7 linked regions of the Homo sapiens genome follow. The protein of the gene in region 4 purifies or fractionates together with the protein of the main gene of each other region. This does not show direct contact. Each region holds a gene or a part of one and is shown on either strand. Other genes may lie near its edges. The genes, in order: ITM2B, CEP135, SERPINE2, HNRNPUL1, LYAR, RALY and SULF2.

The links.
Region 1: the proteins of HNRNPUL1 (region 4) and ITM2B purify together in Homo sapiens (co-immunoprecipitation; one large-scale study listed by IntAct). This does not show direct contact.
Region 2: the proteins of HNRNPUL1 (region 4) and CEP135 purify together in Homo sapiens (co-immunoprecipitation; one large-scale study listed by IntAct). This does not show direct contact.
Region 3: the proteins of HNRNPUL1 (region 4) and SERPINE2 fractionate together in Homo sapiens (co-fractionation; one large-scale study listed by BioGRID). This does not show direct contact.
Region 5: the proteins of HNRNPUL1 (region 4) and LYAR purify together in Homo sapiens (co-immunoprecipitation; one large-scale study listed by IntAct). This does not show direct contact.
Region 6: the proteins of HNRNPUL1 (region 4) and RALY fractionate together in Homo sapiens (co-fractionation; one large-scale study listed by BioGRID). This does not show direct contact.
Region 7: the proteins of HNRNPUL1 (region 4) and SULF2 purify together in Homo sapiens (co-immunoprecipitation; one large-scale study listed by IntAct). This does not show direct contact.

The regions. Positions count from the first base shown.
Region 1 is NC_000013.11:48,257,206-48,260,705, forward strand, and holds part of ITM2B (integral membrane protein 2B), read left to right. Parts: intron 1-920; coding exon 921-1,031; intron 1,032-1,591; coding exon 1,592-1,742; intron 1,743-3,500. UniProt on the Homo sapiens protein: Plays a regulatory role in the processing of the amyloid-beta A4 precursor protein (APP) and acts as an inhibitor of the amyloid-beta peptide aggregation and fibrils deposition. Plays a role in the induction of neurite outgrowth.
Region 2 is NC_000004.12:56,018,445-56,021,944, reverse strand, and holds part of CEP135 (centrosomal protein of 135 kDa), read right to left. Parts: intron 2,593-3,500; coding exon 2,390-2,592; intron 1,270-2,389; coding exon 1,165-1,269; intron 1-1,164. UniProt on the Homo sapiens protein: Centrosomal microtubule-binding protein involved in centriole biogenesis. Acts as a scaffolding protein during early centriole biogenesis.
Region 3 is NC_000002.12:223,977,416-223,980,286, reverse strand, and holds part of SERPINE2 (glia-derived nexin isoform b precursor), read left to right. Parts: intron 1-2,659; coding exon 2,660-2,743; intron 2,744-2,871. UniProt on the Homo sapiens protein: Serine protease inhibitor with activity toward thrombin, trypsin, and urokinase. Promotes neurite extension by inhibiting thrombin. Binds heparin.
Region 4 is NC_000019.10:41,274,372-41,277,871, forward strand, and holds part of HNRNPUL1 (heterogeneous nuclear ribonucleoprotein U-like protein 1), read left to right. Parts: intron 1-1,787; coding exon 1,788-1,927; intron 1,928-3,500.
Region 5 is NC_000004.12:4,283,655-4,287,154, reverse strand, and holds part of LYAR (cell growth-regulating nucleolar protein), read left to right. Parts: intron 1-582; 5' UTR 583-636; intron 637-3,359; 5' UTR 3,360-3,412; coding exon 3,413-3,500. UniProt on the Homo sapiens protein: Plays a role in the maintenance of the appropriate processing of 47S/45S pre-rRNA to 32S/30S pre-rRNAs and their subsequent processing to produce 18S and 28S rRNAs. Also acts at the level of transcription regulation.
Region 6 is NC_000020.11:34,000,411-34,003,910, forward strand, and holds part of RALY (RNA-binding protein Raly), read left to right. Parts: intron 1-3,500. UniProt on the Homo sapiens protein: RNA-binding protein that acts as a transcriptional cofactor for cholesterol biosynthetic genes in the liver. Binds the lipid-responsive non-coding RNA LeXis and is required for LeXis-mediated effect on cholesterogenesis.
Region 7 is NC_000020.11:47,670,482-47,673,981, reverse strand, and holds part of SULF2 (extracellular sulfatase Sulf-2 isoform a precursor), read left to right. Parts: intron 1-1,588; coding exon 1,589-1,784; intron 1,785-3,500. UniProt on the Homo sapiens protein: Exhibits arylsulfatase activity and highly specific endoglucosamine-6-sulfatase activity. It can remove sulfate from the C-6 position of glucosamine within specific subregions of intact heparin.

The sequences.
Region 1 (3,500 bases), on a different chromosome or scaffold from region 4:
TGCTGTACTCACCTAGGTATTTGTGGACTGTAGTTAACTAAAGGTAACTGAAACTCGAGAAGCACAACCTCAGATAAGAGGGACTACTGTATTTAATATGTTTACATTTCTGTTTATGTTTACATTTCCCCAATTTTTGTCCCAAGAATTTTTTGTTTTTTCAAATCAGGATTCAGAGATTCAGAAGTTCATGTATCACCTGTGATTTTTATGTCTCTCTGTAAGCTTGCCATTTTGAACACTCGAATATATTACTGAAGTTAGCTTTGCAAACATTTCGTGCCTGATAAATACATCTGATGGATGTTTATAAACCAGTTTGAAAATTTACTTATTTCAAGGAAATAAACTTCCAAAGCAAATAGTAAATAATAATAGTTAACACTTACTGAGCTCTTAGGAATCAAAATGTTGACATTATTTGATTTAAGTTATTCTTAAAAACCGTTCTATGAGACAGTCTTTCTCAACCAGCGTTTCTCATTTGAACCACAGAACACAAAATCATTTAAATGACTGTTTTTCTAATGTTCTAAGGATGGTAGTATTCAAGATACATATGAGAAAATTTAATCTTTACAAACAATGGACAGATAACCTTAGAGGGCATTTGAGCTTATAAGTGGGGAAGTTAAATTGCTTAATTATATAATAAGTATTTGCAGTTAATTTGAATAGGTATTATTACTTATTATAGAAATATACCCTCGATGAGCATTTTATTTACTGGTAGCAATATTTTTTCCTCTCCCATTCCCACTTCCAACTTTATCCAGCCAAATTCTGAATTTGTTGAAATGCAAGTGATTTATACATTCTAAAGCCAATTCATTTTAATGATACAAATTATTCTTAAAAATCCAGTTGCTGCCTGTTTTTGCAAGTATTACTGTAACTACACTGTATCTTTTTCTTCCCAGAAACTTACAGCCTATTTAGATCTTAACCTGGATAAGTGCTATGTGATCCCTCTGAACACTTCCATTGTTATGCCACCCAGAAACCTACTGGAGTTACTTATTAACATCAAGGTATAAGAATGTTGACTGTTTTTGATGAATGATGCCTTCATAGTGTTCTGGAATTCCCTGTTGAGAAATTAGCCCTATAGGAGCCCATTTTATCAGACTGTAGTTAAGAATTTTACAAAGAGGAACTAATACTCATGGTTTTTGTTTTTAATGTTTTATATCTTGAAATTGAAATAAATTTCTCAAATAATGTTTTAAGTTTTCCTAAAGAGCCAGGGAGTAAATATTAGCCAACTACTTAATTCTGGTGCCATAGACAATACGTAAAACAGATGAACATGACTATATTCCAAAAAAAATTCTACTTATAAAAACAAGCCGGGGGCGGTGGCTCATGCCTGTAATCCCAGGACTTTGGGAGACCTAGGTGGGAGGATTGCTTGAGGCCAGGAATTTGAGACCAGCCTGGACAACATAGTGAGAACATAAACAAACAGATGGTGGGTAGTAGTTTGGCAACCTGTTCCATACCATAATGTGTAAGAATTTTGTCTTGTTTCTCTAGTCTACTCAGTGTATGTTCTGAGATAGTCATGTCATGTATTCTTTTCTGAATGTAGGCTGGAACCTATTTGCCTCAGTCCTATCTGATTCATGAGCACATGGTTATTACTGATCGCATTGAAAACATTGATCACCTGGGTTTCTTTATTTATCGACTGTGTCATGACAAGGAAACTTACAAACTGCAACGCAGAGAAACTATTAAAGGTAATACTTTTTAAATATTAAAGTGTTGGGCAGAAAAGTTCATTGCATTAAACTAGATTTAGGTGAAGCCTAGTCATTGTTACCAATATACCTGCCATGAGTGAGGTAATATTGTGTCGTTATATAATATTTCCAGGTTTCTATAGAATTATCTTAATTCCATTTAGTAAGTCCACTCTTTTCAGGTGGAGAGAAAAGGTCAATGTGAAATGTCATTGCCTTGAGATGATGGTACCTCATTTTCCATCTAGTTAGTCACCCTGTCCAACTTCCCATCCTACCACTTTGGTTGAGCCATACTGAAAGGGTTTTTATTATCCAGAGGGTGTCTTGGGACCAGCTCTTCAGCTGTGTTTTCAGGGATCTGGATTCTAAGCAGGCTGTTTGCCTTTTGGATCATATTGGGAATAATCACTGTCAGGGTAGTTGGAAAGGAATTTGGGTGAAGAACTAAGAGCATTGATACAACTAATGTTGTAGCTTTGCCAAATCATTTAACTTTTATTTTCTCACCTGAAATATAAGAATTACAGTATCTCCCCATTTCCTTTTAAGAGCATTGTGAAAATAAAAAGAAAGTACATGTGGCAGCTGTGGAAAGTAAGAAGTGCCATTCAGATACACTGTGGTGTGATTTCTTTGGAATTGTGTCACCCAGTAAAAGTGCTTTCCTGGCTTTTTGCTAGCATTTTAAATAATACTGTTCTCTCATCTCCGGCGGTTGAGTCATCTGAAACCAGCTTGATTTCTTTTTTTTTTTTTTTTCCAACTTTTATTTTAGATTCAGGGGTACATGTGCAGGTTTGTTACAAAGGGTATATTATCTGATGTGAGGTTTGGGGTACAGATGATCCCATCACTCAGGTAGTGAGCAAAGTACCCAATAGGTAGTTTTTCTTTTCTTTTCTTTTTTTTATTATACTTTAAGTTCTGAGTTACATGTGTACAATATGCAGGTTTGTTACATAGGTATACAGGTGCCATGGTGGTTTGCTGCACCCATCAACCTGTCACCAAATTAGGTATTTCTCCTAATGTTATCCCTCCCCTAGGCCCCCACCTCCCGACAGGCCCCAGTGTGTGATGTTCCCCTCTCTGTGTCCATGTGTTCTTATTGTTCACCTCCCACTTATGAGTGAGAAGATGCAGTGTTTGGTTTTCTGATCTTGTGATAGTTTGCTGAGAATGATGGTTTCCAGCTTCATCCACGTCCCTGCAAAGGACATGAACTCATCCTTTTTTATGGCTGCATAAAATTCCATGGTGCATATGTGCCACATTTTCTTAATCCAGTCTATCTTTGATGGACATTTGGGTTGGTTCCAAGTTTGCTATTGTGAGTAGTGCCACAGTAAACGTACATGTGCATGTGTCTTTATAGCAGCATGATTTATAATCCTTTGTGTATATGCCCAGTAATGGGATTGCTGGGTCAAATGGTATTTCTGGTTCTAGATCCTTGAGGAATTGCCACACTCTCTTCCACAATGGTTGAACTAATTTACACTCCCACCAACAGTGTAAAAGCGTTCCCCAATAGGTAGTTTTTCAACCCTTACCTCCTCCCTCCCTCCCTCCCTTCCTTATAGTCCTCAGTATGTATCATTCCCATCTTTATGTCAGTGAGTTCCCAGTGTTTAGCTCCTATTTATAAGTGAGAGCATTGTAAGGTAGGTATTTGGTTTTCTGTTTCTGTGTTAATTCATTTATGATAATGGCCTCCAGCTGTATCCATACTGCTGCAAAGGACATGATTTC
Region 2 (3,500 bases), on a different chromosome or scaffold from region 4:
AATCCTCCCACTTCGGCTTCCTGAGTAGCTGGGACTACAGGCACCCATCACCATGCCCCAGCTAATTTTCAAAAATTTTTTTGTAGAGATGGTGTTTTGCCATGTTGCTCACGCTGATTTCAAACTCGTGGGCTCAAGTAAATCCACCTGCCTTGGCCTCCCAAAGTGCTGGGATTGCAGGCATGAGCCACCAAGCCAGGCCTTTATGAAATCGTAAATATTGATTTCATAGCAAATTGTCACTATACTTCAAATAGCACATCACTACAAAGTTTTGACGTAAATAGGTAAGAATAACTCAAAAACTGATCTAACAAGCAATTTGGCCACTAATTGAGAATGAAATCTCAGGAATGCAGATGTCTATGGTATTAATATAGTAGGAAAGAGTAATGGAAGACAAGTAACTTGGCAACTGATTTTCAAGTTAGACTTCGATTTAAAGCAGGTCTCAATCCGGGTTAGTAACACCTGGGGATTAAATTTTTCAACGTAAAGCAAATGAACCAAAATATGAGTGAATATGAAAATTACCAAGCTGTAGGGAATACATTGAAGAGGTTAAGGGTACAGGTTTTAGAATTAAAATCTGTTTGGTTTCCTACCACTTACTATTTATGTGATCTCAGTTTCCTATAAGGTAGGCATAATAATAGATTGTTGGTGGGATTCATCAGACACTTATATAGTGTCTGGTCCACATTTGTTAACTGCTGTTACTATCTTCAAATCATTACCTTTATTATGATTTGTATGTGGAACATCCTACTTGAACCATACATTTTGGAGCTCTTATAGGGATTGTTGTTGCTTCTCTATACTCTTTGAAATACTTTTGGATTCTAATTTTGTCCTGCGGAATGCTATAGGAAATATTTATCCAATACTTCCTATTTTACCTTATTTTTCAGATTATTAAACAATTTTATTCAATAAATATTTATATAGCATCCGCTATGTAATACTTGCTATTTTAGTTACTGTAGAGCTATTATCTTCCCCAACACTTGTTGCCTTTTTTAAAAGGAAGAATTACCAAAGAAATGTACTTTATGTATTAGCTTTTTAAAAAGTTTGTTATTTGTAAAGCCATATTAAATACTTTCTGAAGTACAATAGAGAACACATAAAAACATTGTCAAATGTAAAAAAAATTTGTCTTACCGTTCGTATCTTTCAGTTGAGATCTGCCTTTTCAGAGCATCATAATCTGTTTGTAACTGTGCCACTTTAGCTCGAAGCATGGTGTTTTCCCGGCTTTGACTAGTTCTTAAAAACAAATTAAAAAATCAAGAAATAAACGTTCCGTTTTGTAGAGTCAGGTGCTGTGGGTTTTTTAAATTAATAAAGAGAAGATCAAGACCTTTCAACAAGAATTCTCTAAACTTCTAGAGCTTTTATCACATTTTCTTTTTCATTCATTTAGTTTATTTATGAAACATGTACTGAACATCTATTATGTGCTAAGCACTAAAGCAATGCTAGGGATACAAATTTGAACGAGACATAAATGGTAACACCAAGATGTAAAGTGTCTTCATTGGCTCTTTCTTGACTCTTGCCTTGGAAAGAGAAATATTAATATTTTTAATACCTTTCAAAAGCTCATTCTTCCATGTGTACTCTACTCTGGGTTTCTTTCCCTCTTCCTACAAATATGTCTAAATCCTTCTATTCTAAAAATATGACATAATCAGTCTCTCCCAAAGTAATCAATACATGTATGTGGGTCAAATCTCATAGCCTTTTTAGAGTCCTTTTTCCTAATCTACAGCATAAGACACAGCCACCTCTTCTTCTCCCGAGAACACTTTCTCCTTCACTGACTCCTCTGTCCATTCCTCAACTGTAGGCGCTTTCCTAACGTTTTCTCTTCTCATTACTCCCACGGTACAACCTCTGTAGTGAAGATATACAGGTCTGCACCTCCCAACACGATGTTTCTCCCGAGTCAGTCTCCTAAATTTCCAAAAGCAGCAGATGTATAAGCCAAATATTTTGGTTTTGGGACAGCGTCTCGCTCTGTCGCCCAGGATGGAGTGCAGTGGTGCAATCTCGGCTCACTGCAACCTCCACCTCCTGGGTTCAAGTGATTCTCACGCTTCAGCCTCCTGAGTAGCTGGGACTATAGGTGTGTGCCACCACGCCTGGCTTTTTTTTTTTGTATTTTTAGTATAGACGGGGTTTCGCCATCTTGCCCAGGCTAGTCTCAAACTCCTGAGCTCAGGCAATCTACCCGCCTTGGCCTCCCAAAGTGCTGGGATTACAGGTGTGAGCCACTGCACCTGGCCTATCTTTCATACTCTTAACCTTTCCTCCACTTCAAAAAAATTAAAAAACTATCCTTCACAAGCAATTGTCTTTGCATAAGTTGACTTAAGACACTTACAATTTGCTTTCAGAAAGGGTTAACTTCTCCTTAAGTAGCTGGATTTCTGTATCCTTCTCGTGGGAGGTTAAGTGAGAATGAAATTCTTTATCTCTGTTTGTAGCCAACAATGATTCGAGGTTTTTAACTGTATGTCTCTCATTTGAAAGTTGTTTTTTCAGTAGGTCTGACTCTGACTTTACATTTTCTAATTCCACCACAACCTACGTGAAAAACAAAGTAAGATTACTTCAGTACAATTTTAAACTTACTCTGAAAAAATTATTTATCTGACAATATAGCTCTGTGGAACTATTCACCTATCACTTGTTTCATTTTGGGTATGGGTTAAAGATTATGAACTGTTTCTTTAAGTATAAGAAAGACACTTTATTTTCAAAATAATCTTTGCTATTTTTACTATGGGCTTATTTGGCTATAGGATCTACTCAAATCCTCAAATAATTTTTAGTCATGGTACCTTATCAAGAGACGGTCATTAAGATAAAACCACAAGGGCAATGAGACCCTTCTGGTTGAATATGCTTACTCTGACTACATAATCAAGCCAGTATTATAGTTTCTCAGTACCTGAAAATAAAGATACTACTAGATGAGTGAAAATTGAAAACATCCATGTTTGAAAACAAACACTAGGTTATTTAAAGTAATGCCTCCATCTGGGAAAGGTAAATTCTAGCTAAATAGACTTGTTTAATTAAGATTTAAACACCTTGAGATTTTTATCGGGAAAAATATTCTACTTCGGAAGCACTGAACTGTTCAATCCTTCATTCAAGTCTTACTTTTTTTTTTTGAGACAAGGTCTCACTCTGTTGCCCAAGCTGGAGTGCAGTGGCACAATCTCTGCTTACTGCGGCCTCGACATCCTGGGCTCAAGTGAACCTTCCCTGCCTCAGCCTCCCGAGTAGCTGGGACTATAGGCACATGCCACATGCCTGACTAATTCTTTGTATTTTTTGTAGAGACGGGGTTTTGCCATGCTATCCAGGCTGGTTTCAAACTCCTGAGCTCAAGCAATCTGCCTGACTCGACTTCCCAAAGTGTTGGGATTACGGGTGTAAGCTATCGTACCTGGCCTCAAGTCTTACTTTTAAACAGAGAAAGAATG
Region 3 (2,871 bases), on a different chromosome or scaffold from region 4:
GCTTCCTCTAGCAGGGGAGCAAACACATTCCTGTATACTCATTGGTTGAGCAAATATGTAATGCACCCTCTTTCCAGCCAGGCAGTGTGTGTGGGTTAACCCTCAGGAGACAGCAGTGAGTACAGACAGACTGAAGACCTGTAACCACAAAGCTCAGAATCTGTTTCATTAAAGAAAAGCATTTCAGTGAGAGAAATTCCTCTAGGACAGGAGTCAGCAAACTTCTATAAAGAGCCAGGTAGTATGTATTTCAGATTTGTGTGTCATACCATCTCCATTACAGCTTCTTAGCTCTTTCACTGTAGCATGAAAACAGCAATCAACAATACAAGTAAACAGATGTGGCTGTGTTCCAATAAAACTTTATTTATAAAAACAGGATTTGTCCTGGTAGACTTGCCTTGAGGAAAATAGTTTGCTGACCCCTGCTCTCAGGAGGATAAAACATGTTCTGGCTTCTTACTGGCAAAAAAGACCAATCTTCAGATTTGAACATAAAATAAACAACAAGTACTTAAAGGAAAATAGGCAATCAGGTCTATCCAGGATAAACCGAAGAATTCGCCAGCATCTGTTGAATTGCGGCAGGATTGCTGTACAGCCTTCCTTGATAATTAGAACATCCACATCTGCTTCCTCCTCAGTGGTTTACATAATGAAGGAGAAAACAGAACAATCGTAAGTCAGTTTTTTCACCCCTCATTATCCGTAGGAAAATAGATGAATAGATTTGGCCAACTCTGTGAGCCCATAAAGTGAAAATCTTAGCTACACTTGCAGCTGGGTCAAATATCTCTGGTCATTGAAACATACCAGTTATACTCACAATAGATGTGTTATTGCCTTTCTCGAATAAACGTTTTAAAAATTCCTTTAAAGAAGCATTTAAAACAAAGACCCTGAAATAAGAGGGTTGGAAATTTTAAGATGCTTTTTGTCTTTTCTAGGTAATTTTAAGTAACATCTAAAAGTTATTGACCAGTTTTGCTGAGTGTAACTATCAGGACCAGCTACATAGTTTGTGGGGTCCTGTGCCAAATGAAAATATGGAGCCCCTTGTTCAAAATGTATAAGAATTTCAAGATAGCAACAGCAGAGTATTAAACCCAGTGCAGGGCCCCATGTAACCGCCCAGGTCCTCCTGTCTTAGTCCGCCTGGGCTGCCATGACAAAATACCGTTGACTGAGTGGTTTAAACAACAGAACTCACACTTCTGGAGGCTGCGAGTTCAAGATCAAGGTGTTGGTGTTGGCAGGTTTGTTTCTCCTGAGATCTCTGGATCTCCGGAGGTCGCCCCCTCCCTGTGTCCTCACATGGTCTTTTCTCCATGTGACACATCCCTGGTGTCTCTCCCACTTCAAATAAGGGCAACGGTCCTATTAGAATAGAACCCTACTTAACCTTCATTACCTCCTCAAAGGCATTATCTCCAAATACAGTTACGTTAGGGGTTTGGGGCTTCAGCATATGAATTTGGGGGGAGACACATTTCAGTCCATAACACCTGCTATTTAATATTTGTTTTTAATAACCCTGGGTAAAAGGGCTTGCCCCAGCATAACTGCAGCTGTTTCCTTTATAACATCAAGCCCAAGTGTTCAATACTTCATGGGGTTTGAGCAAGAGGACTGAGCTATTGCAACAGGCATGTGGTAGTAATGCCACACACCTACCCTCCCGTGAGGCCCTGGTTCAGGCTTATTAAATGGAAACAAGCCTGGCAGACGAGGAATGGCCAAGACCCATGAGGCTAAAGAAGTTTGCTTTCCAAGTCAGATGCCTACACCTGGTGAGTGGAACAGCAGTATAAGGTAGTAGGTCCCGGATGAGTGGTCTACATTCCAGTGCAGAGGAAACCTAAATAATGTGCCAAAGGAGAAGGCACAGACACAAAAGCTAAGAATTGGACTGGGCCTTTATATACAGAAAAGATTTAGAGAAGCTAAACAGGACCAGGGGTCGGGCGCGGTGGCTCATGCCTGTAATGCCCGCACTTTGGGAGGCTGAGGCAGGTGGATCACTTGAGGTCAGGAGTTCAAAACCAGCGTGACCAACATAGTGAAACCCTGTCTCTAAAAATACAAAAATTAGCCAGGCGTGGTGGTGCATGCCTGTAATCCCAGCTACTCAGGAGGCTGAGGCAGGAGAATCGCTTGAACCCGGGAGGCAAAGGTTGCAGTGAGCCAAGATCGCGCCACTGCACTCCAGCCTGGGTGACAGAGTGAGACTCCATCCCCAAAAAAAAGGACTGGGGGCTTTATCAGCAAAGCAGATGGTGTGAATAAAAAATAGCTAATAACAATAAATATGCATTAGATGTGTTTAGTGGCAAACACTGTTCTAAGAGCTATAATATATCTTATGTCATTTAATTATGTCATTTAATTCTCATCAAAACTCTATGAGGAGTAAGTATGTTTATCAGAGATGGTGCTTGTGTAGAAGACATGAGAGAGTAATGTAAAGGGCCTGGCCCAAGGTAGGCTTAGTAAATGGTGACCATTGAGCCTGTTGTAACATGGCCAGCCTATGGAACAAGCATGAAGTGTGTCTTCAGACACCAGCCTCTGAGGGTCCATGAAGCTAGCTAACTTGCTGGCCTTATGCTTACATGGTCTCATGTAATGTGCACAACACATTTTCCTTTTCTTCCCGTAGCTGCAATTCTCATTGCAAGATCATCGCCTCCCTGGTTTATAGTAGACAGACCTTTTCTGTTTTTCATCCGACATAATCCTACAGGTAAGTGACTCTCCTCTTCCATCATGCCCTCTCTGTTAGAATTTCAAAAGGTATATTGCACTCTTCATTATATCCAACAGTGGTGCCCATAGTCCATTTCCCTAATGTCAATAGTTGCAGACACTTTG
Region 4 (3,500 bases):
ACCGCCCTGTACACACAGGGGTTGTCATCTAATCAGGAAGGGAATCTGAGTGCAGCTGGGGAAACTTAACTCTTTGACAACCAGTTCCCGTTTCCATCAGCTGCTCAAGTTCCTGGTGAAACCAATGCCACTGTGTCCTGTGAGGCACTAACCTGGCCCGCCCTGCTGTCTGTCCTCCAGTTCAGTTTTCTTTCCACTGGATAAGTGGCTTTCACCTTCACTGTGCATCTGAGCATTTGGAGGAATTATTATAAAGGTCCTTTCGCTCAGACCTCCTAGTCAAGAGTCTAAGTGGTCGAGCCTATGAATCTAAATTTTTACATGCACCCAGAAGCCCAATCAGGTCTGAGAACACTGCACTTCTCAACAGAGCAGAAGATAAGCAGCAATTTATTCATCTATTTCTACAGAAGCTTCTGTTTATAAAGCACTGGCTACATGCTTTAGTAAGAGATAAAAATATACACAATCTCTAATATCACAAGCTCTCGAAAACAACATCTACCCAGAGTAGAGGTAAACATTGTTTAAAAAGTGTTGGGTGGCAGTGGTTCATGAGGCAGCGTCTAGATGAAATGCAAATGTACAGATCATGACGGTCAGCCTTTAGAGAAAGGAGAGCGCCTCATGGGAGGGATGGTCAGGAAAGGCTTTCTTGGAGGCGTGACTGGCTCCTTGAATATTGAGAATATTGAGAAGGGTAAGAGCAACAGTAGGAGAGTCCTAGGCCCATGAAAGGAATTAGGAGCCTATGGGGCACCTGGGCATTGGTTCCTGGGTGGCAGGTGTGGATCAGGGTCAGATCCCTGTATAGCTATTGGAAACAGAAGTCCGGTTCCCAAATTGATAGAATTACCACAGAGGGCGGTAGGAATATATGGTGGTGGTGATTAACCTTTTTGTATTCTAAAAACTAGTTTGAGCCTGGGTAACATGGCGAAACCCTGTCTACGAAAAATATAAAAATCACCCTGGCATGGTGGCATATCCCTGTAGTCCCAGCTGTTCAGGAGGCTGCGGTGGGAGGATGGCTTAAGCGCAGGAGAACAGAAGTTGCAGTGAGCCGAGATCATGCCTCCGTACTCCAGCCTGGGTGACAAAGCGAGACCTTGTCTCAAAAAAAAAAATTAATTTGAAACTGCTGAGGATATGGACCCTATCCCTAGCAAATACACATCCCCACCAAAGACATGTGTTGACAATTTCTGAGGATACCCCTGAAGCCCCATCCTTGGATCCCACCAGATAAAGAACCCCAGTTCCTCTCTGAGGTCATACAGGCCAATTTGCAATACTGCACATCCTCCCTACTCAAAGGGAGAGAGGTTGAGGGGTGTGCTGGTTCCTTTTGAAACTGCCCCCATGATGTGTTCACTGTGTACTCCTGGTCAGCACTTGGGGAAGTTCCCTCTGCCTGCTTCTTTCTTAGGACTTCTAAAACATCAGCCAGGCCGGGCGTGGTGGCTCACGCCTGTAATCCCAGCAGTTTGGGAGGCCGAGGCAGGTGGATCACCTGAGGTCGGGAGTTCGAGACCAGCCTGGCCAACATGGAGAAACCCTATCTCTACTAAAAAATACAAAATTAGTCAGGTGTGGTGGTGCATGCCTGTAATCCCAGCTACTCAGGAAGCTGAGGCAAGAGAATCACTTGAACCCGGGAGGCGGAGGTTGCGGTGAGCCAAGATCGCACCATTGCACTCCAGCCTGGGCAAAAAGAGTGAAACTCCGTCTCAAGAAAACAAAACAAAATAAAAACATCAGCCAACTGTGGGCATTTTCCTTCACAGATAACTGCGACCTCCACTTCAAGGTGGCCCGAGATCGGAGTAGTGGCTATCCGCTCACAATTGAGGGCTTTGCATACCTGTGGTCAGGAGCCCGTGCCAGCTATGGGGTCAGAAGGGGCCGTGTATGCTTCGAGATGAAGGTGAGTAGGAGCAAGAGAAGGGGAAGGGACAGAGAAGTCCATCCATTGTAATATCCTGATACCAGCCACCTTGGTCAGAGCTGCAACTGCAAAAGAGATTGGATTGTGCAATACCATGTCCAAGCAGACAAAACTGTGATGAACTCAAGACAACTACATCATTGCTAAATATCATATCAGAAAAGCAGGCCAACCATGCATTGCTTCATCAAGCAGATATTTCCTTGGTGAGATTTGACCCAGGTATTATGTAGTCAACCAGTGTAGTGATGACATGTTTGTAGAACTGAGAAAAGAAGTTGTTTGGAAGAAAAGTGATCTAGAAAGAATAGACTCAGATGTCACTTATTAAAGGGAGGCCAGAGGGAGAACAGGGCAAAGAACTGCCAGCTTAGGCCAGCCTCTGCTGTCATCTCTCCACAGTTCCATGTCAAGTTATGTTTATGAAAATAATAGATGCTCATGTTTAACAAAAGTTCAGACAGCACAGAAAAGTACAGGATAAAACAGGTTATTCTCGCCAGGTGTGGTGGCTTTTGCCTGTAATCCCAGCACTTTTGGGAGGCCAAGGCAGGTGGATCACAAGGTCAGGAGTTCAATACCAAACTGGCCAAGATGGTGAAACCCTGTCTACTAAAAATACAAAAAAATTAGCCGGGCATGGTGGCGGGTGCCTGCAATCCTAGCTATTCAGGAGGCTGAGGCAGAGAATTGCTTGAACCCAAGAGGCAGAGGTTGCAGTGAGCCGAGATCACGCCACTGCACTCCAGCCTGGGTGACAGAGTGAGACTCTGTCTCAAAAAAAAAAAACAAAAAAACAAAAACAAAAAAAACAAAACAGGTTATTCTCATGTCCTCTCAGTTCCCATCCTACCATCCTACTCCCTGGAGGGAACTTCTGTGTTAACAATTTCTTACCTGTGGTTTGTGTATCCAAACTTACTGATGATAGCTAATAAGTATAGAGCTCTTTGCATGCACAAGATACAGCACCAAGCTCTTTACATGGATTATCTCCATTAATCCTCACAGTACCATCTGGAAACAGGTACTGTTAGCCCCAGTTTTTAGAGGTAGAAGCTGAAACACAGAGGGTTATATTTTATTGACCACGACACCATTGATGTAAGTTGTGCATTATTTTATGTACCTCTCATAGAGAAACACTGCAACAAAATAAACTACGCAGTGTTTTCTTTTTTTGTTTGTTTGTTTTTTTGTTTTTGAGATGGAGTTTCACTCTTGTTGTCCAGGCTGGAGTGCAGTGGCGCGATCTCGGCTCACTGCAACCTCTGCCTCCCGGGTTCAAGCAATTATCCTGCCTCAGCCTCCCCAGTAGCTGGGATTACAGGCATGTGCCACCCTGCCCGGCTAATTTTTGTATTTTTAGTAGAGATGGGGTTTCTCCATGTTGATCAGGCTGGGCTTGAACTCCTGAGCTCAGGTGATCTGCCTGCCTTGGCCTCCCAAAGTGCTGGGATTACAGGCGTGAGCTGCCGCACCCAGCATACGCAGTGCTTTCTCATCACATTTATTGTAAAATGGATCCTGATTTCAGAGATTTTAAAATGTG
Region 5 (3,500 bases), on a different chromosome or scaffold from region 4:
AGGGAAGGAAAAGAGGACTCTATTTAGATCCAGCCCCATGAAAAAACTGCTGTCTTTTTACACTTAGGGCTAGATGTTGAAATCTGTCACATCTGAGCCCGGCAGACTGGGTGTCCTCAAAATCTTAATGCAGTTTTAAGCTTTCATAATTTCAGAAGCATAAATGATCCAAACTTGCCAAAACATCATTTAAAATTTAATTAAGGCCGGGCGCGGTGGCTCACGCCTGTAATCCCAGCACTTTGGGAGGCCGAGGCAGGCGGATCACGAGGTCAGGAGATTGAGACCATCCTGGCTAACACGGTGAAACCCCATCTATCTCTACTAAAAAATACAAAAAATAAGCTGGGCGTGGTGGCGGATGCCTGTAATCCCAGCTACTCGGGAGGCTGAGGCAAGAGAATGGCATGAACCCGGGAGGCGGAGCTTGCAGTGAGCCAAGAATGCACCACTGCACTCCAGCCTGGGCGACAAAGCGAGACTCCTTTCTCAAAAAAAAAAAAAAAAAGTTTAATTAAATTTCCTTCATGCTTATCTAGTCTTGTGGAATTTGAACAATACCGTTTTACTTTTTTGTTTTAGGCAATGTTTGCTGTCTTCCATTGGAGTGACTGAATTTCTACATGACGGCTTTTTGTAAGTTTGTAGTATTTACATTTTTGTTTTAGGCAATGTTTGCTGTCTTCCATTAGAGGGACTGAATTTCCACCTGACGGCTTTTTGTAAGTTTGTAGCATTTACGCTTACGAATATTAAGCCTGCACTAAGACCTGGGACACCCTGTCTGCTGTGCAGTTAGGCTGACTTTGAAGCTTCTGATGGTTTTGAGCTTTTCTTTGAAGCCCAAGCAAGTGTTTATGGCATAAATTACAGGTATTTTCGCCTGGGGCTAGGTTGGGTTTGAGGTGTAATCAAGGTGCTGGACTGTCCTCCAGGCTCTGAATAAAGGAGAGGTAAGCTCCTTACAGACATTAGCTCATTAGCCAAGCAAGTGGACACAGAGCTGTTCCCATTTCATGGCAAGTGTAAAAATCCGGAGGAAGGCAGGAAGAGACAGTTCTGACTTCCTGTGCAATCCACCCATTTGGCCTTAAACAAGTAAAGACCAAATGAAAATGATGTGAGAGTTATTTTTTAGCTGGACATGTAACCAGATTCTAATCACCTTCTGAATTGATATTTAATTACACTGTAGTGTGTAGCCGATCTCCAGAGAGATAGAATGTTTGGCACAGTTACTCTTGAGTATCTTTTTGTCAACATCACTGCTTTCACTGCTTCTTTCAGTCAATATATTTTGTTTCCAGCTTCCTTCCTAGGCCTTTAATTCCTGCTGGGACAGGAATCTCTCAATTCACTCTTAAGCCTTGTCGAAACCTTTCTTCCTCCCATCTCCCACTCCATCCAGAAATAGAATTGTCCTCAGCAACAGAGGTTGGCAAGCTCTAAGCCGTATCTAAGTTTCAGAGACTGTTTTTTGTTGTTGTATCTTATTAGAAAAGTGCTTTAACGTTTTTCAGCAGATAATTTGGCATATCACGGCTGCTTTCACCTTGTGCCTGTGATGACAATCTATTTCTTGGTGACTAATAAGTTATTCCTGCTCTTACACCAAAGTGCACCTCCATGCTCTTTGAGAATGTGATGTTGGCTCTTATTCCAGCCTTTGTTCTCCCTTGTCAGGCAGGATAGCTGCTCTTGTTGCCTGACATGTTGATCATCCCTCTGCCTTTTTTTAGAATGGTAAGCTTTGAGGGAGCTGGGTTGTGGGAAACGTGATTCCAGCTCCCAGGAGCTTGACAATATCACACATCTTTACAGTAAGCAGATGAGAAGATGACAGTTGCTGCAGCACATCGAGGGTAGTCATGTTTTCCTTCCTGAGGATTTGGTGCTAGGTTGTAGCTGACCACATGCTGTCCGTTTACTAACATACACTGATAGTGAGCTGAGGAGCGGGGCCTGGGACCGCGGAATCAGGGGTCTGTGGTTTGTATGTAGCGTAGAAGCTGAGCTGATGTCTGATAGTGTCCCACAGGGCAAGAGGCCTCCACAAGAGACCAGCTGGACCTTTGTGAACCCTGGAGATGCAGCCAGGATGTACATTTCCATTCAAGGCTGAATGGACATGAATAACCTTGGTCGTTGCTTGGGTGTGGCCTCACTGGCAGTGATCCAAAACATGCTGGTGGAGGAGCAACGGTGATTTCATGCATGGGAATTCTCTGCAAACCAAGGGTAGATCATTTGTACTGAAAGCTTGTTGGATGAAGTCCTACCCTGAAGTAAATTGCATCGGTTTACTTGACCCTCACCTTTATTTTCCTAATGAGGAAGAAAGCTCTGGGTTAAACAGTTCTCAGTATTTTTGCTGTAAAACTTATAATGTAAAACAACAATGCTGTTTTAAAATCTAGTGATTAAAAATTATGTAAGTATGGAAAATTACTGTGACTTCTCTAACACTTCTAGACGAATTTGTGTTTTCCTGAGCACGGTAGCATTTCTGTGAAATTTTACAATGATGTTTATGTGCGTGTGCAGACATACTTCTTTTTGGGGCAGTGCTCGGGACACCTGGGTTTGTGAACTCCAGTAATTCAGCACCCAGCAGTTGGGACACCTGGACTTGGTTCCGTTTCTTTCTGACTTGTCTGACAAGCTGCCACATGAAGAAGGCCCCTGTCCATTACAGCTGAGGCGCATGTCCTCATTTTAACCTTTGTAGATATATAGTAATATTGATATGAATGCTTTTAGTGCCATAGAAATTGTGCCCATAGAATTGCCTCTTCTTCACTTTCTAAACTTCACTCAGTTTTCCTCTTGCTGTGTTCTTAGTATATTTGAGGACCTGAAATAGTTTGTAGTGTACACCTAAATTGCAATGCCTTCTATAAGTTTCATATACAGAGAGAGAGTTTAAGGTATTATGGAAAGTAAGATTTAACACCCTCAAAGCTCTTCATCTTGAGAGCCAATCTGCCAGGTTTAAATCCTGGTTCTGTTAACCGTGTATCCTTGGGCAAGTTATGTAATCTCTGTGTCTCAGTTACCTCATATAAATTTTGAACAATAATAGTCCTTCCCTCATAGGGTTACTGCGGGGATTGAATAAGTGAATAAATGTAAAGCCTCTAGAATAGTGCCTGGCACGTGGTAAGGACACAATAAATGTTAGCCATTCTCATTGTTAATGTTAGTTTTACTTATATGAATGGTGGAATTTTATGTAGATTGCTAATCAACTTTGACTCTGTTATTTTCATGTGAAATTATGGTTGAAAAGTTAGGGGCATGAGCCATTTATTGAAATGAGAAGTTTCAGTTTATAATTATAATTGTCTTTTTTTCCTTAGGACAAGACTTAAAACCTGTCTTGGATAGAGAATATTTAGCCATTTACCTAAAAATGGTATTTTTTACATGCAATGCATGTGGTGAATCAGTGAAGAAAATACAAGTGGAAAAGCATGTGTCTGTTTGCAGAAACTGTGAAT
Region 6 (3,500 bases), on a different chromosome or scaffold from region 4:
TCTCTCACTTCTCCCCTCTCTTCGAACGAATAAGTAGAAGCAGGTATCTGGCCAAGTATTAATGTTGGTCATCTTTTGTTTCCACAGCCTTGCCTTATTTCCTCAGTGTTAGTGTCTTCTGTCATTTCATAATGGCTTTCATGGTAATCAATGTCCTGTACCTCCTGGGAGGAAGGAAGGAAAGATGGGATATTGTCCCTGGGCTCTAGTCTCCATCTCCAGAAGAGCCATTTAAGACATCCACTGCCCCCTGTTCTCTATTCTGGGGTTGGGGTAGGGGGTTGTGGCTGAATACTTGGGTTTCTTAGAGGGTACATACTTGAGTTTCCTAGGGAGTGCTCTACTAACTAAAGTGCAAATCTGGCTATCTTCCCAACACACCAATGAGTTTGACTGGGGAAAATAGCAGTCAGTGGGCTTTTGTTGCTTGCCAAACCCATGTTAATTGTAATTATCTAATATTCTGTGGGATCTCTGTCTTCCTGTCTGTGAAACAAGGGAATTGGACTAGATAATCTTGAGTGATATTTCTACCTTTTTACAGTTTTGTGGAAGTGGCTTGAGAATTTATCTCTGGAAGGAGAAAGGGCTTTGCTAAAGTATTGAGAGTATCTCAGAGGGTTAAATTCTGGGTTCACAAAAGATACCTTTCAGTATATAAACAGATGGATATTGCTTTTTAGAGTGGACAGATTGCTGAAAAATTGCTTGTGAGATGAATTTATCAAATTGTATGCTGAGTTCCATTATAAACTTGGAGCTGTAGCCTCATGGGACAAACTTGGAGTCCAAGACTATAAAAAAATTACATTAAAATATGTAGCAAACTGTTTAAAATCACATAATAAAGGAAAAATAAAAAACATTTTAAGATTTTCACACAATGGTAATAATGGAAAAACACTAGACCAGAAACTTGCATTTCCTAAGAGCTTTAGCTTATGGAGTAGATGCCTCTACTGAGGTTACCTGGCCCTTGAAGTGCCATCTGTAGAGACTGAATAGCTCTGTTATTTGTCAAGGTAAGACTCATTGCTTTATTCCAAGTAAATATTCTCTTTTAGAATGCCAGGTTTGGAAGCTTAATGTTATTGGCCAGATTTTCTTCATTCCAGAGGCATTTATCTGGTATTTAGCTGTCTCCTGTTTATTTTATTAAGGATTTTAATAAGCTTAGTTAACGGTACTGCTTACATGGTGTCTCTTGATCTATTTGTCTAGTTTCCTTTGAAATTCTTTGTGTTAGTGAAAGCAAGCCCAGCAGTAGATTTAAAAGGGTCATTTCCATAACTTCATTTATCTAGATTTGGGTTTTTTTGGTAAGAGATATGACCACACTATACTGAGAAATCGAATGTTGTTTCCTTTTTTTTTGAGACGGAGTCTCGCTCTGTTGCTCAGGCTGGAGTGCAGTGGCATGATCTCCGCTCACTGCAAGCTCTGCCTCCCGGGTTCATGCCATTCTCCTGCCTCAGCCTCCTGAGTAGCTGGGACTGCAGGTGCCCACCACCACGCCCGGCTAATTTTTTTGTATTTTTAGTAGAGACGGGGTTTCACAGTGTTCGCCAGGATGGTCTCGATCTCCTGACCTGGTGATCTGCCCACCTCGGCCTCTCAAAGTGCTGGGATTACAGGCGTGAGCAGCCGCGCCTGACCACGTCGTTTCCTTTTTACCTGAAGCATTAATTTAAGGCTTTGGAATTTTGTTTTTGCGGATACCTGTAAGGTGGTACTGAGGAATGGTGCTGCTGCCAAAGTAATAATGAGGGCTGTGCGTGAATCAGTTGAGCACAAGAATAACTTCTCTTCAGACTTTAAAGATTCACCCTAATTGATTCTTACACCAATTAAAATCAACCCTTACTAAAATTAGGGTTCAGAGGAAGTTACTTAGTTGCCGTGGCATGATTATTTATGCTTGGGAGTCCCAACAGCCTTCCATCCCTAATCTCAACCATTCGTTCCAGGAATTTGGAGTACCTCCTATATGTTCTTCTTATGGAAAACATAAAAACCAACAAGACATAATTCCTGTCCACAAATTACTTTCAGTCTTGAGAGGAAGACAGATAAGTAAAGCAAATCCAGCCTGCCGCCCTGGCTCATATATTTGGATTGAGGGTTCAAACGGAAAATAACATAATTGGTGGCTGTATCAGTAGACAAGGAGACCAGTTTGATAATCTGACTTCCAGTGTGTAGACTTTATTTTTTTGGCATTCCCTTCTCTCCCTTCTGTTTTTTACAGATATTTATCCTCTGTTGCTAAGGTGTCCAACACCCAGTGTGTAAAGTCAAGAATATTAGAGTAGGGGACAACATTTCCTTTCAGGTTTAGGTGTCCAGATATCTGCATCTGGACACCCACACAGTTCTCTGGCTGGCTTCAGGAAGATTTGGTATTGTCTCGCTTCTTATGTAGAAATGAAGAAAATTAAGTTTCATGTTGAATTATTTTAAGTTTTATTATGCTCTATTTTGAAATAAAATAGCTCTATTTTGTATGCAGGTGGAATTATCTGAGGTGTGGTTTCTGGCATTTGATCAGTCTGTGATTTGATAATTGTGTTTATATTGTAGTTCGTGAAGCCCATTGCCACTGCCAGCCGCCTTTGAACACTTTGCAGCAAGGAGCCCTAGTAAATGGAAATGGTGGGCACATTGAGGCTCTCCTGGTTTTGAAGGGCTCTTCCCTCTTTCCTACCCTTCAGAGAGAAATATTACTTGGGATGCTGTGTTGTGCTCCCGATTTCTTCCAACAATTTAGCATTGCCTGTGGGGTCTGGAATAATAAGGCCATGTAAACTGGAGATGTCATCTTCTCTCTCTTTGAAGTTCCATTTTCTCATCTGTGAAGTGGGGTTAACACTCCATATCTTGCCTTCCTCACAATGGTATTGTGAGGAGCAAATTAGAACGTTGTAAAATCACATGAGACAATTTATATGTGAAGAATCCATCAGTCATTTGTCAGTGGTAATAGGTAAGTGGCAGAATTTTCCTTAAGAGGGGAGATCGATCTCTTTGTAGGGAGCAGGGAGAGTGATCTCAGCTGGTCTCTGGGATTGGGAAAAAGTGTGATGAAAGCATCTGGACAGGGGCAATGATGGAGCAAAAGACTGGAGGTGAACTGTTCAGCGGGAACAGTGAGTAAGTGTTCTCTAACCTCATACTGTAAGTCCTAGGTTAGGCATATGTTTACCTTTGGTAAATATGCCAAACAGTTTTTTTTTTTTTTTTTTTTTTTGAGACGGAGTCTCGCTCTGTCGCCCAGGCTGGAGTGCAGTGGCGGGATCTCGGCTCACTGCAAGCTCCGCCTCCCGGGTTCACGCCATTCTCCTGCCTCAGCCTCCCAAGTAGCTGGGACTACAGGCGCCCGCCACTACGCCTGGCTAATTTTTTGTATTTTTAGTAGAGACAGGGTTTCACCGTTTTAGCCGGGATGGTCTCGATCTCCTGACCTCGTGATCCGCCCGCCTCCGCCTCCCAAAGTGCTGGGA
Region 7 (3,500 bases), on a different chromosome or scaffold from region 4:
GTTGGGTTGGAGCGGGGAGCAGGCAGTGGGGAAGGAGAATTCCAGGCAGAGAGAGCTAAGTGGACAGGAGGCTGCTCGCCAGCGCACACAGCTCAGGGCTTCACGCAGAACTCAGAGCCCTGGCTTTTCTTGAAAAATCAGACCTGGGCTTCTGGGCCTGTGCTCCCCTCTGGCGACAGTCAGATGGGTATAGCCGGTCACAGTGCCCACTTTAGCCTCCCCAGGTCCCCCAGGCGCTTCTGGGCTGGCCTCATTCAGGGCCATGCCTGCTGGCCCATCAGTCTACTTCTGCACTAAGGAATCCAGGTTGCTGGAAGGGCCTGCATGCATTGAAGGGGATGGGAGGGTGGCAGGGCGCTGTGAATGCAATTAGATTCAGCCTCCAGGTGAGAACAGATGGGCGGGACAGGGGCAAGATGAGCAGGTGAAAGGCACCAGGGCCTTCAACGGCAGCGGGCGGGGGCAGACGGTGCAGCAGAGGGTTGGGGGGGATGGTGGCACCAGACTCCACACTTTTCCTTACAGCTCTTGCACCTCCCAGTTGTGTGACCCAGGACACATCTCTCTACCTCCGTGTGCCTCATCTTGAATCGGCACAGTAATGACAGCACCTGCCTCGTAGGGTAGCGTGAGGTGTAGTAAGCAAGTTAATATATTAACACACAGTGCTTGGCACATGCTAAGTGCTGGAGAGACACAGGGAACAGATCTGACCCATGGCCTGGAAAGGTCACTTTGGCACAGAATAGGCCCTAAAGAGTCACTGGGTCAATGGGCTGGAGCAGCTGTGGACAGAAGGGAAGAGAATCCAGTTTACAGGTGGTTGCAGAATCCCGTGAGGGGATCCAGGAGGCTGGAACTGGGGAAGAGCAGAAGGATCAACACGAGAGATTTGGACAGTGATTCTATCTACATTCAGCGTCTGACCACAGGCCTGGAGTTGAGTGCACACGTGGAGCCTCTGCACACACTGCACTGATTGAGTCTGGGAAGGTGGTCAGGGGAGACCTCCTTGCGCTGGAGCAGACGGGAAGGAAGAGAAGCCTCCAGCAGCAGGAAGGGCTGGAGAAAAGGCATTCTAGGCAGAAGGAACAGTGAGCGCCAAGTCCCTGGGGCAGCAGCCCACAGGGGATACTGGAGAGAGGGCTGAGGGAGAGGAGGACCGATGGGTAGGCCAGGGCCAGATTGCAGAGGATGTTCAAAGACTAGTATCAGGAGCTTGGGTCTTGTCTTAAAGACAGTGGGAGCCATTGAAGGGTTTTAAGTAGGAGAGTAATATGATCCAACTTGCCCTTTAAAAAGATTCCTCTAGCTGCCATGTGGGTGGATTTTAGGAGCAGACAGAAGCAGGTAACCGTGAGAGTGGTGGCTGTCGGAGGCATCTCGCTGGGGGATGATGGTAGCTCTGCCCAAGGTTCAAGCAGTGGCAGTGGAGAGAAGCGGCATTGGAGATAGCAGAGGTGGGGCTCGGTAACAGCTGGATGCAAGCAGGGAGAGGGATGTCTCCAGGGTGGATGGGGGTGGCAGGGGAGAGGCGGGTTTAGGGGAGCAGATGAGCAGCTGGCCGAGGCCCTGGCATGTCTTTCAGAAGTGGCAGTGTGTGGAGGACGCCACGGGGAAGCTGAAGCTGCATAAGTGCAAGGGCCCCATGCGGCTGGGCGGCAGCAGAGCCCTCTCCAACCTCGTGCCCAAGTACTACGGGCAGGGCAGCGAGGCCTGCACCTGTGACAGCGGGGACTACAAGCTCAGCCTGGCCGGACGCCGGAAAAAACTCTTCAAGAAGAGTAAGTGTCACAACCTGGCTGAGTGGGACAGGAGGAGAGAGACCATGCCTGGGGGGCCCCATTCATTCACTCCGACAGTTCCACAGAGACTGTCACTTTGCCAGGTGGTGATCTAGGGGCTGGGGACACAGCCACATCTCCTCACGAGCCACCCATTCTAGTGGGGAGCAGTAGTAATAAACAGATAAGGCCAGGCGCAATGGCTCACGCCTGTAATCCCAGTACTTTGGGAGTCCGAGGCAGGCAGATCACCTGAGGTCAGGAGCTCCAGACCAGCCTGGCCAACATGGTAAAACCCCGTCTAAAAATACAACAATTAGCCAGATGTGGTGGCTCACGCTTGTAATCCCAGCTACTTGGGAGGCTGAGGCATGAGAATCGCTTGAACCCAGGAGGCAGAGGCTGCAGTGACCCGAGATTGTGCCACTGCACTCCAGCCTGGGCAACAGAGCGAGATCCATCTCAAAAAAAAGGAAGAAACACACATACAAGGTTCTGTATTGATTGGCTGGTGAAAATGCTAGGACCAGAGGTTCACAGGAACCCAGCTCTGTGCTTCCCCTAGGAGCCATGTTTCAGCGTTCAATTAGTCAGTGTTTGTGGTGAGTTTATAGAACTACCCTGGGCTGGGCGCGGTGGCTCACACCTGTAATCCCAGCACTTTGAGAGGCCGAGGTGGACAGATCACTTGAGGTCAGGAGTTCAAGACCAGCCTGGCCAACATGGTGAAACCCCATCTCTACTAAAAATACAAAAAATTAGTTGGGCGTGTGGTGTGGCAGCAGAGTCGCTTGAACCCGGGAGCAGAGGTTGCAGATAGCTGAGATCACGCCATTGTGCTCCAGCCTGGGCGACAGAGTGAGACTCGGTCTCAAAAAAAATAAAAAATAAACTACCCTGAAGAACAAAAATAGACTATAGTTGAGTGGGGAAAAGCCTCACTCAGCTGAAGAAGTGTCTACACCTTCACACCTCATTCTCGGCAAGGGCCGAGGAGAGGACAGTCAGACAGAAGCCAGGGAGCAGGCGAAGTGGAGAGAGGGACTCTTCTAGACCCAGCCAGAAGGCTCAGCCGCCACCCTGGGCCATCGCTTCACCATTCTGAGGCTCAGCTCCCACCATCAAACAGGAAGAATGGTCCCTGCATGACTTTAAAACAAGAATGAGCCTGTGCCCTGAAAATGTGTGGAGGCGTCGGGGTCCGCCGGCTAGAAGTGTGCCCTCCAAGGCTGGGCAGCTTCCCACGTAGCCCATTTCTCTGGCCTAAGGACAGCCAAAGCCTAATGAGAGATTTTAGGTGTTGTTTTTAAAAAAAATTATGGTGAAATTCCCATAAAATTTATCATCTTAACCATTTTTAAGTATCCAGTAGTGTCAACTATATTCCCACTAGTACGCAACCTATCTGCTAAATGAACTCTTCATCTTGCAAAACTACAACTGTCCCCATTCAACGTTATCTCCCCATTCTCCCACCCCGCTCCCACCCCCACCCCGTTCTCCCACCCCGCTCTCCCACCCTGCTGTCACCCCATTCTCCCACCCGTTCTCAGCAACCACTCTTCTTCTCTATGAGCTTGACTGCTTTAGGGGCCTCATGTAAGTGGAATTGTACAGTATTTGTCCTTCTGTGGCTGGCTTATTTCTCTTCGCATAATGTTCTCCGGGTTCATCCACATGGTAGCCTGTGTTGGAATCTCCTTCCTGATCGGGCAC